2 linked regions of the Homo sapiens genome follow. The protein of the gene in region 2 interacts with the protein of the main gene of each other region in a pairwise test. Each region holds a gene or a part of one and is shown on either strand. Other genes may lie near its edges. The genes, in order: ZNF821 and LURAP1.

The links.
Region 1: the proteins of LURAP1 (region 2) and ZNF821 interact in a two-hybrid assay, tested with the Homo sapiens proteins (one large-scale study listed by BioGRID and IntAct).

The regions. Positions count from the first base shown.
Region 1 is NC_000016.10:71,874,057-71,877,880, reverse strand, and holds part of ZNF821 (zinc finger protein 821), read left to right. Parts: intron 1-3,824. UniProt on the Homo sapiens protein: May be involved in transcriptional regulation.
Region 2 is NC_000001.11:46,209,536-46,213,359, reverse strand, and holds part of LURAP1 (leucine rich adaptor protein 1), read right to left. Parts: intron 1-3,824. UniProt on the Homo sapiens protein: Acts as an activator of the canonical NF-kappa-B pathway and drive the production of pro-inflammatory cytokines. Promotes the antigen (Ag)-presenting and priming function of dendritic cells via the canonical NF-kappa-B pathway.

The sequences.
Region 1 (3,824 bases), on a different chromosome or scaffold from region 2:
TGGCGTGATCTCAGCTCACTGCAACCTCGACCTCCTGGGCTCAAGCGATCCTCCCACCTCAGCCTCCCGAGTAGCTGGGACTACAGGTGCATGCCACCACGCCCGGCTAAATATTTGTATTTTTTGTAGAGACGGGGTTTCACCATGTTGCCCAGGCTGGTCTTGAACTCCTGAGCTCAAGTGACCTACCCACCTCAGCCTCCCAAAGTGCTGGGATTATAGGCATGAGCCACTGCAGCTGGCTAAAACCCTACATTGGAGAGGACAGATTAGTCAAGTAATTGACAAGATAACTAAAATTTCTTAAAAACATGCTATATAGGCTGGGCGCAGTGGCTCACCACTGTAATCCCAACACTTTGGGAGGCCAAGGCAGGAGGATTGCATGAGCCCAAGAGTTCGAGACCAGCCTGAGCAACATGGCAAAACCCCGTTTTTTCAAAAAAATACAAAAAAACTAGGCCTGGGGGCATACATCTATAGTCCCAGCTACTCAGAAGGCTGAGGTGGGAGGATGGCTGGAGCCTGGGAAGTTGAGGCTGCAGTGAGCCAAGATTATGCCACTGCACTCCAGTCTGGGTGCCAGAGTGAGACCCCGTCTCAAACAAACAAACAAAAACCAAAAAACTATATCCCAGGCACTATGCACTTTATCTGAATCTTACTGGGTTACTTCAAGAGTAGAAGACAAAATAGTATAAACAGAGGAATTAAGAGGGTTTTGACATTTTATACATTAATGAGATTACAATAGCAAACCTCCATATAAAATTCTTTCTTCTATTTAAGTCCCGGAAAAGTGTAAAACGGAACGAGTTGGATGCTTCTAGGAGTATATTCTGGAATGGGGGTGTGCAAAGGCTACTTAATACACAGATGAGTGGTTTAGGGAAGATTTAGAAATTGCTGCTAAAACAGCAAAATGCAGTGGGCTTGCACGTGAGGATTGTCAAGGAAGATAAAATGAAGTATCTTTAGCCGAGCTCGGTGGCTCATGCCTGTAATCCCAACACTTTGGGAGGCCAGTGCAGGATAACTTGAGGCCAGGAGTTTGAGTGCAGCATGGGCAACAAGGCAAAACTCCATCTGTACCAAAAATACAAAAATTAGCTGGGCGAGGTGGCACACACCTGTAGCGCCAGCTACTTGGGAGACAGAGGTGGGAGGATCGCTTGAACCCAAAAGGTCGAGGCTGCAGTGAGCTGAGAGAGCTGAGATCATGCCACTGCACTCCAGCCTGAGCGTCGGAGTGAGATCCTGTCTCCAAAAACAAAAAAAGAAAAAGAGAAAGAAAAAAATGAAGTATTTTAGCATAGGCCATCCATCACAGGGGTTTAGGATTGTTTCTCCTCTCTGGTTGATAAAAGACACAAGTGGCCGGGCACAGGTGGTGCACGCCTGTAATCCCAGCACTTTGGGAGGCCGAGGCAGGAGGTGGATCATGAGGTCAGGAGTTTGAGACCAGCCTGGCCAAGATGTTGAAACCCCATCTCTACTAAAAATACAAAAATTAGCCGGGTGCAGTGGCGGGTGCCTGTAATCCCAGCTACTCGGGAGGCTGAGGCAGGAGAATCACTTGAACTCGGGAGGCAGAGGTTGCAGTGAGCCGAGATAGTGCCACTGCACTCTAGCCTGGGCAACAGAGCAAGACCCCGTCTCAAAAAAATAAATAAATAAAAAGACACAAGTGTGACCCCAAGAAGGCATCTGGAAAGGTACTCTTAGTAGAAATGATAGGTTCACAAACAAGGCAAGTATAGGAGTTGGGTGTTCACCTACAAAAGCCATCTGTCCAAGAGCCTGCTTAGATTTGAGGAAAGTAGCTGGTGGGGTGATGGTGTGATTGTAGTAAGGCCAGGGGAGCCACTTCAGGCTTGTGTGGCCAATGTCTATGCCCACGTAGCATATATCCATAAGCTGCATCTCCCTGCACCATAGTCAAAGCCAAGATGAGCTATTAATGGAGTTGAAAAATAGATGGAGGCTAGGCGTGATAGCTCACGCTTGTAATCCCAGCACTTTGGGAGGCCAAGGTGGGCGGATCACCTGAGGTCAGGAGTTTGAGACCACCCTGGACAACATGGTGAAACCCTGTCTCTACTAAAAATATAAAAATTAGCGCCAGGCGTGGTGGCTCACGCCTGTAATCCCAGCACTTCGGGAGGGCGAGGCCGGCGGATCACGAGGTCAGGAGATCGAGACCATCCTGGCTAACACGGTGTAACCCCGTCTCTACTAAAAATACAAAACAAACAAAAAATTAGCCGGGCGTGGTGGTGGGTGCCTGTAATCCCAGCTACTCGGGAGACTGAGGCAGGAGAATGGTGTGAACCTGGGAGGTGGAGCTTGCAGTGAGCCGAGATCGCACCACTGCGCTCCAGCCTGGGTGACAGAGCAAGACTCCGTCTCAAAAAAAAAAAAAAAGAAAAAAATTAGCTGGGCATGGTGGCGCACGCCTATAATCCCAGCTACTCAGGAGACTAACACGGGAGAATCACTTGAGCCTGGGAAGCAGAGGTTGCAGTGAGCCAAGATCACACCACTGCACTCCAGCCTGGGCGACGGAGTGAGACTCCATCTCAAAAAAAAGGAAAAAAAGAAAAACAGATGGAAAAACAGGCCATGGAGGTGAGGAGAATATCACACATCCACAGTTGCATAAATGAAGTTACAGAGTCAAGCGAAAGAACATTGTTTTGAGGTGGAGTAGGTGGGACTTTGCAGGCTCTGTGGAGGTGGCCATTACAAGGGCCTTTACTGCGGGGCTGTGAGCACAGATGTTCAGCTACAACTAAAGAGCAGACCCCCAGGGAGGGGCTGTTTTCAGTCATGCATTTGGTCAGGGAGCCATGAAGGCTTCTCAGGTGATACACTAAGCTTGACTAAAAAAGAAAAACTGAGATTTGCTAGTTTCAGAGGACCTTCTATTTATTTGTTATTTGGGAACTGAAGCTGACCCTACCCTTTTCAAAAGATCATCTTTTCATTGCGTATGGCAATAGTGGCAAGTAGAAATAGGTAATTTCATTTTCTGACCATGTGAGTCTCCTATCACCTTGCAGTGAAATAGAACCAACTAAATATATTTAATTTAATGCTGCTTGTCTATTAAAAGTAAATGAAATGGGGCCTAGCGTGGTGGCTCATACCTGTCATCTCAGCACTTTTGGAGGCCGAGGCAGGCAGATCACTTGAGGTCAGGAATTCAAGACCAGCCTGGCCAACATGGCAAAACCCTGTCTCCACTAAAATCCAAAAAAATAGCTGGGCATGGTGACACACGCCTGTAATCCTAGCTACTTGGGGGGCTGAGGCAGGAGGATTGCTTGAACCCAGGAGGCAAAGGTTGCAGTGAGCCGAGATCACGCCACTGGACTCCAGCCTGGACGACAGAATGAGACTTGGTCTCAAAAAAATAAATACACAAAATAAAGTAAATGAAATGGACTCAAGGTCTGGGGGGCAGGAAAGTCTGCATTAAGCTTTGCTTAAATATAAAAGTTAATTGACACTTGAGCAGAGTAACGGCTGAGCTTCATTAGATCTGCCTTCTGGGAAGACGAAGATTGTGTGGCATGAAACTAATAGGCCACCTAAAGGGATATATTAAGAATTCCCAGGTCGGGCTCAGTGGCTCATGCCTGTAATCCCAGCACTTTGGGAGGCCGAGGCGGGTGGATCACCTGAGGTCAGGAGTTCAAGACCAGCCTGGCCAACATGGTGAAACCCTGCCTCTACTAAAAAAAATACAAAAATTAGCTGGGCATGGTGGCGGGTGCCTGTAATCCCAGCTACTCGGGAGGCTAAGGCAGGAAAATCGCTCT
Region 2 (3,824 bases):
TTTTAAAATATGGAAAACAAAATGTCCCAGCACAATTACTGAATATCAATCCCTACTTGATCTGCTATGCCAATATCAAGTGCCATATATCATATTTGTGTATATGCTGTGTTATAATCTTATGAAATCACTATGGTATATGCTGTTCATCGAAACATCGTATGTTTTGGTCGTATGATGACTGAAACATCATATAAATATTTGTGTATGTGTACACACTTATATACACATAAATGTTTATATATATGTGCATATATACACACATGATAAATGTTTATTTGACATATGTAGTCTATCATTGATCAAAATGTTTATATGGTAATCCCAGCACTTTGGGAAGCTGAGGAGGACAGATCACTAGAGGTCAGGAGATCGAGACCATCCTGGCTAACACGGTGAAACCCCGTCTCTACTAAAAATTACAAAAAAAATTTTTGCCAGGTGTGGTGGTGGACACCTGTAGTCCCAGCTACTCAGGAGGCTGAGGCAAGAGAATGGTGTGAACTCGGGAGGTGGAGCTTGCAGTGAGCTGGGATCATGCCACTGCACTCCAGCCTGGGCGACAGAGCGAGACTCTGTCTCAAAAAAATAAAATAAAATAAAATAAAATAAAAAATTAGCCAAGCATGGTGGCTCTTGCCTGTAATCCCAGCTACTCGGGAGGCTCAGGCAGGAGAATCACTTGAACCCGGGAGGCAGAGGTTACAGTGAGCTGAGATGGTGCCACTGTACTATAGCTTGGGTGACAGAGCGAGACTCTGATTCAAAAAAAAAAATTTGGCCGGGTGCAGTGGCTCACGCCTGTAATCCCAGCACTTTGGGAGGCCAAGGCGGGCGGATCACGAGGTCAGGAGATCAAGACCATCCTGGCTAACACGGTGAAACCCCGTCTCTGTTAAAAATACAAAAAAATTCGCTGGGCGTGGCAGTGTACGCCTGTAGTCCCAGCTGCTGGGGAGGCTGAGGCAGGAGAATGGCATGAACCCGGGAGGCGGAGCTTGCAGTGAGCTGAGATCGCGCCACTGCACTCCAGCCTGGATGACATAGCAAGACTCCGTCTCAAAAAAAAAAAAAAAAATTTACATGGTTGTTTATGTTATACATGGTCTGACATTGACCAAAACGTCATTATGTGTGTATGTGTATTTACATATACAGGTCAGATCCCGCAGGTCACACAAACACAGTAAATGTTTTTTGTATTTGAAAAATGTTTATTGAATTATTCAGGAAATAACTGCTTTATTCACATCTATGATAAACCAGAGTAAGACCATGCATTAATATTTGTACATTGAGGCCAGGTGTGGTAGCTCACTCCTGTAATCCCGGCACTTTGGGAGGTCGAGGTGGGAAGATCACCTGAGATCAGGAATTTGAGACCAGCCTGGCCAACATGGTGAAACCCCGTCTCTAATAAAAATACAAAAATTGGCCAGGCGTTGTGGCGCACGCCTGTAAGCCCAGCTACTCAGGAGGCTGAGGCAGGAGAATCACTTGAACCGAGGCAGAGGTTGTAGTGAGCCGAGATCACACCACTGCACTCCAGCTTGGGCAACAGAGCAAGACTCCGTCTCAAAAAAATATATATATATATTTGTACATTGAGAAAATTAGACACTGGAATTAAATGGACCTAGATTTGAGTTCCAGTTTTGCCATTAATGAGCCATATGAAATTAAAATTGATTTCTTTAAACCTTCATTTCTTTATTATAATATGAGGTACTATCTAAAGGTTTGTCATGAGACATCGAAGGAACATATTAACATGCATAGCATACCATCTGACAAGTATAATACTGTAAATCAATAAATGGTAGGCTATTTGGCTCTACATATTACTATGGTCGACTTATTTACTAGTTGTGATATTACTGTGTGTGTGTGTGTGTGTGTGTGTGTGTGTGTGTGTGTGTGCAGGTTTTCATCCAGTTTTTGGCTCATAAGCCCCATAGCCATTGTTACAGTGTTTGTTATAATGCTGGGGCACTCAGAAATAGGCTTCAGGAAACAGTCTCTTTCTGACCTTCTCCTGCTCTCCTCTCACCTTCCCAGAGTAGAACTCTAATCTGATTGTGGGTCATAAGACCCTCATTCCAGAGAAGGTCCTGACTCATACCCTGGAGGAAGGAATGCCGCAGAGAGAGGCCAATAAGAATCTAAACAGACAGGCTTTGCTGGGTTTTGATCAGACCCTTTTTGTCCAATAACATTTTGATATGGTTGTCCATGTTTCAATCGTGGACAACCAATAAAGTCTCTTTAAAAGGCCCAAAGGACCAGGCACAGTGGCTTAAGCCTGTAATCCCAACACTCTAGGGGACTGAGGTGGGAGGATCGCTTGATCCCAGGAGTTCAAGACCAGCCTGGGCAACACAGGGAAACCCTGTCTCTACCAAAAAAAAAAAAAAAAAATTAGGTGAGTGTGGTATTGCACACCTGTAGTGCCAGCTACTTAGGAGGCTGAACTGGGAGGATTGATTGAGCCAGAGAAGTACAGGCTGCAGTGAGCTGTGATTGAGCCACTGTACTCCAACCTGGGCAACAGAACCAGACCTTGTCTCAAAAAATAAAAAAAGGTCCCCACAACAGGATTCAGAGAGCGTCCAAGTAGCTGAACAGATGGAGGGTGGTGCACCCAGGGAGAGCACAGAAGTTCCGCACCCCTTCCCGTATGCCTTGCCCCATGCATCTCTTCATCTATATCCTTTGTAATATCCTTATAATAAACCAGTAAATGTGTTTCCCTGAGTTCTGTGAGCCACACCAGCAAACCAATCAAACCCAAGGAGGGGGTCATAGGAACCCCAATTTGAAGCTGGTTGGTCAGAAGGTCAGGAGGCCCAGATTTACGACTAGTGTCTGAAGAGGGGGACAGTCTTGGGGACTGAGCCCTCAACCTGTGGGATGTGACACTGTCTCCAGGTAGACAGAGTTGAAATTAAATTAGTAGACACCCAGCTGGTATCTGCTGCAGAACTGATTGCTTGCTTGCTGGTGGGAAGAAATCCTCATATATTTTGGGGTCTTCTGTATTAATGATTATTGTTGTGTTGCATTAAGTGAAAAAATTAAAAAAACACACACACACAGTTTAGGGTTTTCTAAACACTATGGCAAAAGCATAGAAAAAAATTTTATACCTGAAATTATTTGTGTTTTTGGAAGAATATCACAACTCTAATTCAATTGAACAAATGACTATTGGGTACATGGATTTGCTAATAATTACAAAGATAATGGAGAAATTGTTCCTGCTTAATAGAAGCTTGCAGTCTCAATAAGGGGAGATGAACATAAATAACTGCAATATCAGACTGTACAGACTATTAACTTGATAAAGGAGATTATCTTCAATTATTTCATCCTGGAGACAAATATATGAACAGTGAAGACAACTGTCCTAGTCCATGACCAAACTAAATACATTAAACAAAGCTCCTCATACTAAAAACACTTGTCCTGCTGTTTTCCCCTCCCTCCTTTCCTTCCTTTCTGCCTCCCTCCATCCCTCCCTTCCTTCCTCTTTCCAAAATTTACATCTACAGCCGTGCATGGTGGCTCATGCTTGTAATCCCAGCACTTTGGGAGGCTGAGGCAAGTGGATTACCCGAGGTCAGGAGTTCAAGACCAGCCTGGCCAACATGGCAAAACCCCGTCTCTACTAAAAATACAAAAATTAGCTGTGTGGTGGCGGGTGCATGTAATCCCAGCTACTCGGGAGGCTGAGGCTGCAGTGAGCTGAGATTGGGCCACTGCACTCTAGCCTGGGCAACAGAGCGAGACTCCATCTCAAAAAAAAAAAAAGAAAAAAAAAAAGA